Linked DNA regions of Homo sapiens: region 1 is linked to region 2. The links come from fine-mapping of genetic effects on gene expression. Tissue or cell type: thyroid. Region 2 holds a variant in brackets; the other region holds the start of a gene. All regions are shown on one strand. Distances are from middle to middle.

The links. PIP is the estimated chance that this variant, and not a neighbour inherited with it, causes the effect.
Region 1: it holds the start of MAST3, and the variant in region 2 is fine-mapped to the expression of MAST3 in thyroid (GTEx, PIP above 0.99).

What each region holds. Positions count from the first base shown.
Region 1 is chr19:18,094,877-18,099,876 of GRCh38, reverse strand. MAST3 (microtubule associated serine/threonine kinase 3) reads right to left here and starts at 2,099. Exons shown (of 28, transcript NM_001393504.1): 1 at 2,046-2,099. The coding sequence starts at 2,084. It also overlaps a transcript of IL12RB1 not described here. RefSeq lists a silencer at 1,855-2,364.
Region 2 is chr19:18,143,448-18,149,103 of GRCh38, reverse strand. MAST3 (microtubule associated serine/threonine kinase 3) reads right to left here. Exons shown (of 28, transcript NM_001393504.1): 22 at 5,097-5,341; 23 at 4,411-4,638; 24 at 3,875-4,101; 25 at 3,239-3,361; 26 at 2,060-2,223; 27 at 1,480-1,661. LOC124904650 (a long non-coding RNA gene) reads left to right here and starts at 5,336. Exons shown (of 3, transcript XR_007067153.1): 1 at 5,336-5,443. RefSeq lists enhancers at 2,821-3,321, 3,322-3,823. The variant G/A (reference allele first, on the strand shown) is at 2,940.

The sequences.
Region 1 (5,000 bases), 49 kb after region 2:
AAATCAGCACTGAAGGCCCTGGAAGCATTAAGTCCTGGCCATCAGCCTCTAGTGCTAAGAAATAGGTTCAAGTTCTTGTTTCCCCATATAAACAGGTAAGAAAGGCTACATGCCTCTGGGCCTTTGCACGTGCTGTGGCCTCTGCCCGGAATGCCCTCATTCAGTCGGGGAATCCGTGCTCATCCCTCCACCTTCGTGGAGGGACGCCTGTGCTGGGTTGGTTTGGAGAGGAAGCCGGAACTGCGTGGGTTCAAATCCTGTCTGACTCTGTCACCTATACTTTGTGAAACCCGGACAGTGGCTATGCTTCTCTGAACCTCAGTTTCCCCTTTTGTAACATAGAACTTACCATCAGGAAATGTTTGACCCCCCCACCATGGAACAGGCCCCACTTCTTGACGTCAGCAGCACCCCCATTCGCCTACCCGGAGGCGGTTTCTCTATTTTAAGAGGCTGCGGGCGGGTTGGCATCTAACTGGGGCTGGAGGCGGGACTGCCCCCCCACCAACACCACGCTGCTCGCCAATCCCGCCCCGCCCCCTCCTTTCCGCCCAAGTCCCCCACTCTTGCCTCTGGCCTCAGCGCCTCCAGTTCTGCCCCACCCCCGCGCGGCCAGAGACCGGGTGTCTCTGATCTGCAGCTCAGCCCGTGCCTTCCCTGACCACTCCCGACCTGGCTTCCCATCACCTGCTGAGTTCGCAGTCCCGCAGCTACCGGTGCGGCTCCAGGTTGGAGACCCGCCGGCCCCATTCCTCTCACCCCCTCAACCCGCCCGGAGCTAACCTCAGTCCCCGACCCCCACCCCACCTGCTCAGTCCTCCCTAGGTTCCAGCTTCTGTCAACCTCTTTCATTTCCCTAAATACCGCCCCCCGCTGCAATGCCTCGCCACCCTTGGCTGCCTCCTCTACCCCAGGGCTCCCAGCAATGACTGGGTCAGGCGCCTCCTTCACTTGCTGTGAGTCCCTTATCACAACTGATCACTCCGTGGGGTCACCGCTGCTCTGGCGTCTACCTCCCCCAACAGGTTGGGGTTTCTAGGAGGGCAGCTCCAGAGGTTGCAGAACACTCCGCTGCCTCTCCAGAGCCAGGCACACAGCAGGCGCTCCATAAATGTTCGTTGGGTAAGTGCTGAATCCCAGGTTCCCTACCTGAAAACTTGGTGGCTTCTTAAGGGTGTGGTCTAAGTCCCAGAGGAAAATGGCCAAATCTTAATTCCTGTTTTTCTTTTCTTATAATGGGGACACTGAGGCCCAGAGAAGTCAAAGGGTGGCTGCCCGGGGTCATGTAGTCCCTGTGTGGCTTCAAACTTAGGCTTCTGCTGTCCCCGACGCCTGTGTCCCTACCTCCTGATGACACAGCCTCCTAAACATAAACTCAGTAAAAGGAGGACCCTATGGCTCATTGGAAAACTGAGGCCCAGAGAAGCAAGGGTGCCCTCCCCCCAGGTCACACTGCTGGTTGGCAGCGCCTTGTGCCGTAAGAGAGCTGGTTGAGGGCGCAGATCGAATCCCAGCTAGGCGACCTCTGGAGAGTGGCTTTCCGGGACTAGAGCCTCAGTTTCCTTATTCTGACAAATGGGCGCCTGACAGCCCCAACCTCCCCAGGTCGTCGTAGGGCTGAGCTGAGGGTGTACAGTGGTGCAGCGACGACCCAAGGAGGTATTAATACATATGAACTCATATTAATACATCGCTAGTAATAGGACTAAAACAACCATGAACATATGGTGAGCTCTCTGGCTGCTGTTGCTAGCATTATTATTAGAACAGCTGGTGGGGAGGGGCAGAGCCCTCAGCCTCTTCCTCCCACGCCATCGCTTGGAGCCTCAGTTTCCCTAGATGTCCAAGGGGGCACCTTCCCCCTTCCCACCATGAGAAAAAGCACTTTGAGAAGCGGGTGGTCAAAAAGAAGCGATCTGAGCGTTCCCCACCCTCTGCCTCAGTTTCCCTACAGCCCGTGAAGGCCCCGCCCCTCCCGGCACCTTTCAGGCCGCGTCCACTTGGCCGCGCCCTCTGCCTTCCGCCCGCCCGCGCAGGGGCCTCACCTGGAGCCCGCGGCGCCGCAGGAGGCTCGACTCGTCCATGGCCCGGGAGTCCGCGCCGCCAGGCCCGCCCCCGGCCCCGCCCCGGCCTGCCAGGCCCCGCCGCCAGGTGCCATTGGCCAGGCCGGTCAGCTGACACGGCCTGGCCCCGCCCCTCCCGGGGAGCCCGACCACAGGGCCCCGCCCCCACTGGGCGAGCTGGCCCCGCCCCTCCAGCAGAGCGCAGAAGTAAATATTTTGCATGAATCCTCTCAGAAGTAAGGCAGCATCGTTCAGCCCCATTTTGCAGATGAAGAAACTGAGGCTAAGATAGGTTAATCAATATGCCCAGCGCATTGGCCGGGCGCAGTGGCTCACGCCTGTATCCCAGCACTTTGGGAGGCCGAGGTGGGCAGATCACTTGAGGTCAGGAGTTCGAGATCACCCTGGCCAACATGGTGAAACCCTGTCTCTACTAAACAAAAAAAACCAAAACAAAACAAAAAAAAAATTACTTGGGGGTGGTGACGCGCGCCTGTAATCCCAGCTACTCAGAAGACTGAGGCAGGAGAATCGCTTGAATCCAAGAGGCGGAGGTTACAGTGAGCCGGGATAGCGCCGCTGCACTCCAGACTGGGCGACAGAGCGAGACTCTGTCTCAAAAACAAAAACAAAACAACAACAAAAAATGTGCCCAGTACACACAGCAGAACGGGTTCTAGGGTGAGGCGAGTGAGGATCTCACCCCTGTGCAAAATTTAAGGTGGCCCCACAAAACTCAGCCATCAAGAGAAATAATATTTTAAAAACATAAAATTAATGAAAACATTTATGATGAACAAAACATCAAAACTTTTATTTTTTATTTTATTTTTAGAGACGGGGATCTCACTATGTTGCCCAGGCTGGTCTTGAACTCCTGGCCTCAAAAGATCCTTCTGCCTAGGCCTCCCAAAGTGTTGGGATTACAGGTGTCAGCCACCGCATATGGCCAAAACACCAAAACTTTTTTTTTTTTTTTTTAATTTATGAGACGAGTCTCTCTGTTGCCCAGACTAGAATGCAGTGGCATGATCTCGGCAACCCCTGCCTCCTGGGTTCAAGCTATTCTCATGCCTCAGCCTCCCTAGTAGCTGGGACTACAGGTGCCCACCACCACACCAGGCTGATTTTTTGTATTTTTGGTAGAGATGAGGTCTCACCATGTTGGCCAGGCTTGTCTCGAACTCCTGGCCTCAGGTGATTCACCCACCTTAGCCTCCCAAAGTTCTGGGATTGCAGGCCAAAGAGTTTTGGTGTTTTGCCTGGCCAAAACACTAAAACTCTTAAGACATGATCAGACCCTTGTCCTTGCACCACTCAGCCTTGTTTGCCTCCCTTTAATCCTGGCCCTGGTGCCAATAAAACTTTACTTACAAAAGCAGGTAGCCGCTGCAGTTGTCAGTTTCTTTTTTGAGGATGATTGCCTTTTTGCCCTAAGTGTCTCATAAACACCATCTCTCACAGATATTTGAAGATAATTGTTCTACTCCATTTTGCAGGAGGGGAAACTGAGGCTGAGAAAAGCCCAAAGTCCCAAAATAGCACCCACATTTAAAAAAAAATTTTTTTTTTGAGACAGGGTCTCTCTCTGTCACCCAGGCTGGAGTGCAGTGGTGCAATCTTGTCTCATTGCAGCCTCTACCTCCCGGGCTCAAGCGATCTTCCTGCCTCAGCCCCCATACCCCAGCTCCCAGAGTAGGTGGGACCACAGGCACATGCCACCATGCCTGGCTAATTTTTTTGGGTTTTTTTTGTAGAGATGGAGTACCGCCATGTTTCCCGCGCTGGTCTCGAACTCCTGGCCTCAAGTGATGCTCCTGCATCAGCCTCCCAAAGCGCTGGGACTACAGGCATGAGCCACTGTGCCTGGCTTAGCACCTGCATTTTTTCTTTCCCTGGGACTCGCACTTTCTCTGCAGCCGCAGTTGTCTTCGGCTGCCCCACTGTACAGTGTGGACACTGGAGTATGCTTTCAGGCTCGAGGGGACCCTAGGAAGGGTCACTGGGCCTGACTGTCCATGAGGTACTGTAGAATTGCATCAAGTTATGGTGGCCAGATTGAGCAAATAAAAATACAGGATGCCAGGGAAAACTTGTTTTTCTCATACAATTTTAAAAATTGACATATAATTCACATACCATAAAATTCACGCTTTTAAAGTGTGCAATAAATTCAGTGTTTTAAGCATACTCACAGAGTTGTGTAACCATCACCACGATCTGATTCCAGGACATTTGTATCATCCCCAAAAGAAACCCTGTACCTATTAGCAGCCAGTCCTCATTCCCCCTCTCTCAGCCCCTGGCAACTACCAATCTGCTTCCTGTTCTATGAATTTTCCTGTGCTGGATATTTCATAAAAATGAAAACATAACATGTGGCCTTATGTGTCTGGCTTCGTTCAGCATCATGCTTTCAAGATGCACCCATGTTGTGGCAAATATCAGTACTTCATTCCGTTTCATGACCAAATAATATTCCATTGTATATATGTACATGTACATTTTGTTGATCCACTCATTTGTTGGTGGTCACTTGGATTTTTTCACATTTTGGTAGCTATTCTGAATAGAGCTGCTATAAACATTGGCATACAACTTTTTGCATAGATTTATTTCTTTATTTATTTATTTTGAGATGAAGTGTTGCTCTGATGCCCAGGCTGGAGTGCAGTCGCGGGATCTTGGCTCACTGCAACCTCTGCCTCCCAGGTTCAATTGATTCTCCTGCCTCAGCCTCCTGAGTAGCTGGGATTACAGACACCCGCCACCACTCCCAGCTAATTTTTGCATTTTTAGTAGAGACGGGGGTTTCACCATGTTGGCCAGGCTGGTCTCAAACTCCTGACCTTTAAGTGATCCATCCACCTTGGCCTCCCGAAAGGCTGGGATTGCAGGTGTGAGCTACCGCCCCCTGCCTTTGTGGATATATTTTGG
Region 2 (5,656 bases):
GCCCACATCCTTCCATGTGGCCACCCATCATGCCTGGTTGTTTTTGTTTTTGAGACAGGGTCTTGCTCTGTTGCCCAGACTGTAGTGCACTGGCTCAATCATAGCCTCAACCTCCTGGGCTGAAGTGATCCTCACAACTCAGCCTCCTGAGTAGCTGGGACAACAGGTGCACGTCACCATGGCTGGCTAATTTTTTTTTTTTCAATAGAGTCTCGCTCTGTCACCCAGGCTGGAGTGCAGTGGCATGATCTTGGCTCACTGCAACCTTCACCTCCCAGGTTGAAATGATTCTCGTGCCTCGGCCCCCTAAGTAACTGGGACTACAGGCATGTGCCACCACATCTGGCTAATTTTTGTATTTTTAGTAGAGTTGGGGTTTCACCATGTTGGCCAGGCTGGTCTCAAACTCCTGACCTCAAGTGATCCGCCTGCTTTGGCCTCCCAAAGTGCTGGGATTACAGGCATGAGCCATCATGCCTGGTTCATGCCAGACTTTTCTGCCTCCTGCTCAGGGTTGTTTCCTTGGCCTAGCTCTGGTGAACTCCCACTCACCCATCAAAGCCCCAGCTCCTACTCCCCCTCCTCCAGAAAGCCTTCTCTGTATCACTTCTGTTTTCTTTTTTTTTTTCCCTTTTGTTTTTTGAGATGGGGTCTCACTCTGTTGCCTAGGCTGGAGTGCAGTGGTGCAATCATGGCTCACTGCAGCCTTGACCTCCTGGGCTCAAGTGAGCCTCCCATCTCAGCCTCCAGAGTAGCTGGGACCACATGTGTGCACCACCACAACCACCTAATTTTTTTTTTTGAGATGGAGTTTTGCTCTTGTTGCCCAGGCTGGAGTGCAATGGCTCAATCTCGGCTCACCGCAACCTCCACCTCCTGGGTTCAAGCGATTCTCCTGCCTCAGCCTCCCTAGTAGCTGGGACTACAGGCATGTGCCACCACACCTGGCTGATTTTGTATTTTTAGTACAGACGGGGTTTCTCCATGTTGGCCAGGCTGGTCTTGAACTCCCGACCTCAGGTGATCCACCTGCCTCGGCCTCCCAAAGTGCTGGGATTACAGGTGTGAGCCTCCATGCCCGGCCTCACACCCACCTAATTTTTTTATGTTTTGTACAGATGGGGTCTCCCTGTGTTGCCCAGGCTGGTCTCAAACTCCTGGGCTCAGTGATCCTCCTGCCTCGGGCTCCCAAAGTGTTGGGATTACAGGCGTGAGCCTCCGTGCCTGGCCTCTTCTCAGTTTTCCCACCCTCCTGTCTAGCCCCATTTGTCCATGATGTTTCCTCTGCTGGGTGCATCCTTCCCTGGCACCTGCATTCGTCTCTAAGTACTCCCAGGTTCCCTGCTAGACACCAGGATCCCGGTCATCTTTTTCCCTACATCGTGTCATTCCATCCCCTGAACTCCTTCCTCCCTCCTGGGGCCCACCAGCCCTTGCTCCCAGGGTAGCCGGGGTGGTGGGGGGTCGGGGTGCACCCACCTGCTGGGACATCAGGGGCTGGGCTTCGGCAGGGAGTGGTGGGGCTGGGGGAGAGGCTGTGGGTGGGCGAGCCGGGGAGGCTCTCACTGGATGACAGTGAGTGGTGGAGTCCGGAGGAGAAGCTGCGGCTGGTGTGCAGCACGGAGGTCTGCTTGGAGATCTTCTTGAAAAGTGACTTCCGCCTGGGGTAAGAAAACCGGAGGCTTCAGAACCCCTGCTCCTGGCCAGGCATGGTGGCTCACACCTGTAATCCCAGCACTTTCAGAGGCCGAGGCAGATGGATCATTTAAGGTCAGGAGTTCGAGACCAGCCTGGCCAACATGGCGAAACCCTGTCTCTACTGAAAATATAAAAATTAGCTGGGCATGATGGTGCACGCCGTAGTCCCAGTTACTTAGGGGGCTGAGGCAGGACAGTCGCTTGAACCCGGGAGGTGGAGGTTGCAGTGAGCCGAGATTGAGCCACTGCACTCCAGCCTGGGCAACAGAGCAAGACTCTGTCTCAAAAAAAAAAAAAAAAAAAAAAGGAAAAAGAAAAGAAAAAAAGAACCCCAGTCCCCGTGGCCCCGCCCCCTGTGTACCGCTCCCTGGTGGTCACTGCCGCGCACCGATCCTGGGTCTCCCGCCGACGGCTCCTCTTGCTCCTGCGTGCCATGCGGCCCTTGGCCACATTCTTCCGGGCGGGGCCCACCTTGATGGAGGTGTTCTCCAGGGCTGTGGTCCGCAGGGATATCTTGTTGCCGCTCTGCGGGAGGGATGGTGAGGGGTTGCCTCTGTGCCTCTCACAGGGCCCAGCACTTGCCAGGCAGCTGCTATGTCCCCTTCACTCCGGGCACCAGCTGGGACCCACCACCCCAGCATCCATTCATCCACACAACCAGTGACCTACCCAATATATCCGGTCAAACAATAGCCCAGGGAGCACCACCCCTCCTGCTAAGATCCTTCCCTCTGCGGTCAACGCCGATCGAGGCCTGCCCTCTTCACTCTCCACCCTCCCGGGGTCTGTCACCCACCTATCTGGTATCCACCCATTAATCACCCCAACATCTCCCCATCCCCCAATCACTCACCTAATGGCCCATGAGTCATTAGGCCAAAGACACCTACCCAGTGTCCAGCTATTCAATGAACCACCCATGCAGCTGCCCACATGAGAGCCCTCTATTTTTTTAGAACCAGGGAGGGTCTCACTCTGTGTCCCAGGCTGGAGTGCAGTATGGCACGATCACAGCTCACTATGGCCTCAACCTCCTCGGCCCAAGCGATCCTCTCACCTCAGACTCCTAAGTACCTAGGACTATAGGCGCATGCCACCATGCCTAGCTAATTTTATTTTTTAATTTTTTGCAGAGATGGGGGTCTCGCTCTGTTGCCCAGGCTGGTCTCAAAGTCCTGAGCTCAGGTGATCATCCTGCCTCGGCCTCCCAAAGTGCTGGGATTACAGGCGTGTGCCACCGC[G/A]CCCGGCCCTTCCTCCTGTCTTGAGCCCATCTCCTACCTCCAGGCCTCAGGCCAGAGGGAGGAACAGATGTGAGGGTGCCCAGGGAGAAGGGAGGGCTTCCTGGAGGAGCAGCTCTAAGGGGTGATGTTGGGGGCTGAAGAAGGACATGTATTCTGGGCCGAAGGAAGTGGATGTGCCAGGCCTGGAGTTGACATTGAATGTGGGGTTGTGTGTCTGGACGCGGAGAACCACGGGGAACCGGGAGCTGCGGCCAAGGGGTGCTGGGGAGCCCTGAGGGTGGGCAGTGGGGGTGCCGCACCTTCAGCAGCAGCTCCACGACGTCCATGTGCACCAGCCCCAGCACTGACTCCCCGTTGATGTGGGTGATGAGGTCCCCAGCCCGCAGGCCCGCCTCCTGGGCGGGGCTTCCGTCCTCCACACTCTGGGGGCAGACGAGAACGGTGGGGTCAATGGCCTGGGCCCCACATCTGGGGACCCCAGCCCAGGCTGGGTCTGCTGTGGGACCCCAGCAAGCTGCTGCCTCTTGTGCTGTCTCAGTTTCCCTGATCCTGGGGGAACTCCTACTCACCCATCAAAGCCCCAGCTCCTACGCCCCCTTCTCCAGAAAGCCTTCTGTGTCTGTTCAGGGAGCAACCAATAGGGAGGGCATGCCTCGACGCCCTTGGGCTGGGAGAGGGAGGATAACATGCCCAGTGCGTCCCCATATGGAGCTGGGAGGTTAATGCCACTTGGGATCTGTGAGCTTCCATCCATCCATCCTTGTCTCTCTCATCTGACCTCCTCCCTGCCAAATGACAGGGACCGAGATGAACTCGGTGGCACCAGCTCTATCTACCTAACCCTGCCAGGCTCCAAAATGCAGCTCTGAGAAGGGACATGACCGGGCAGAGTCAAACTAGAACCCGGGTCCCTGCCATTCCCACTCGGCACTCACCCAGACGACGTGGTGCACAGTGTAGACGTCGCTATCACCCATGTAGACGCGGATCGCCCGCAGGCTGAAGCCGTACTTCTTGCCAGAGCTGTGGATAACGATGGGGGGCCGCAGGCTGCCACACACGGGGGACGGGTCTCGGCTCGGCGAAGAGTCACGGGACGACGGGTTCGAGGACAGAGAGCGCGGGGAAAGGGGGCTCATGAGGGGGCCGCCGCTGCCATCATCTGCAGGGGGTTAGGGAGGGGGTCACTCACTCCCTCACAGGTCTCCCCTGGGGCCCCCTCTTTCCCACCACAACGACCACCCTGGCCACTTTGCTGTTGCTTCAATGTCCCAAGCATGGTCACCCCACCAGGCCTTTGCACGTGCAGTGCCCTCTACTGGGAACACCATCTCCCCAGCTCTCCATGTGTCCTACTCCTCCTCCCCTCTTCTGGGGCTCATCCCCAGCCTCCCCAACTCAGGAAGGGCCCCCACCCTGTTGGTGAAAATGGGTGCAGACAGACAAAGGTGAGAGGGGCCTTGGGCATTACCTGCCGTGATGATGAGGGACAGGGCAGAGACAGAGGCTGACTTGGGCACGCGGCCCCCACTGCCGCCACCACTGCCACCGCTGGAGGAGGCTCTGGACTTCTCAGGGGCTGGGTCTCTTGGGCCCCCAAGGCGGCGGCCCCGGCCGGCATCCAGAGGCCTTGGTGTGGAGTGTCGGGCGCCGATGCTATTGCTCCGTAGGCGGGCGTGGCTGAGAGCAGCTGTGTCGGCTAGAGGGTCAGCAGGGTCAGCTGGGTGCCCCTCAAACTCACCATGTGGTCCTAAAGGGACCTTAAGGCCCTTCCTCCCTGGTCACTATTTACACAGTCCAGCCTCCTGGCCTTTGCTCATGCAGTTCCCTCTTCCTGCACTCCCTTCCCAAATTATTCTCTATGCAAAAGTCTTCAAGTCCCCTCCTCCAGGAAGCCTTCCTCCACACCCATTTAGACCCTTAGTTCCCCCATCTTGGGAGCTAGGGGTCCCATCCTGACTCTATGAAGCTGGGGGCATTTACCCTAGACTGGGGTTCCTTGGGGGCTGGGGGTCTCTCTGGGACCCTGGCTTCTCCTCTCTTAAAGCCTTTGTTGGCTCTGGAGAACTCCTACTCATCCTTGAAAACCCATCTCAAATAGCCCCTCCTCTGGGAAACTTCCATGACATCATCCCTCTTACTCAGGGCCCCACTTACCAGAAAGGCTCGAGGGCTTGGGCATCACTGGGGTGGCCGCTGGTGGGGGGTCAGGCTCCCCTAGAATGAAGACGGGCCTCTTGGGGCCTGCAGGGCCTGGGCCTACCCCCTCATCCTCTGATGAGAAGGCAAACTTGGGCATTGTGTCCAGGCTGATGGTATTCAGGAGAGATGGGCTGGGACCCCGCTCGGGCTGGGACGAAGATGACTGACAGGAGGATCCAGAGGATGTCCAGGACCTCAGCCTGCAGGGAGGAAGAGCCTGCATCACCCCTGCCAGGCACCTGCACCCCAGGATACTCAGCCACCTTCATGGCCACATCTTAACTCTCAGTCTGCAGTCAAGGGTAATTTGCATAGACAGGACGAGTTCCTTCTGTCTGCACTGTCCTCTCTGTCCACCTGGAGACCGCTTATTCACCTTTTTTTTTAAAGACAGGGTCTCACTCTGTCACCCAGGCTGAAGTGCAGTGGTGCAATCTCAGCTCACTACAACCACTGCCTCCAGGGCTCAAGTGAGTCTCCTGCCTCAGCCTCCCAAGTAGCTGGGATTATGGGTG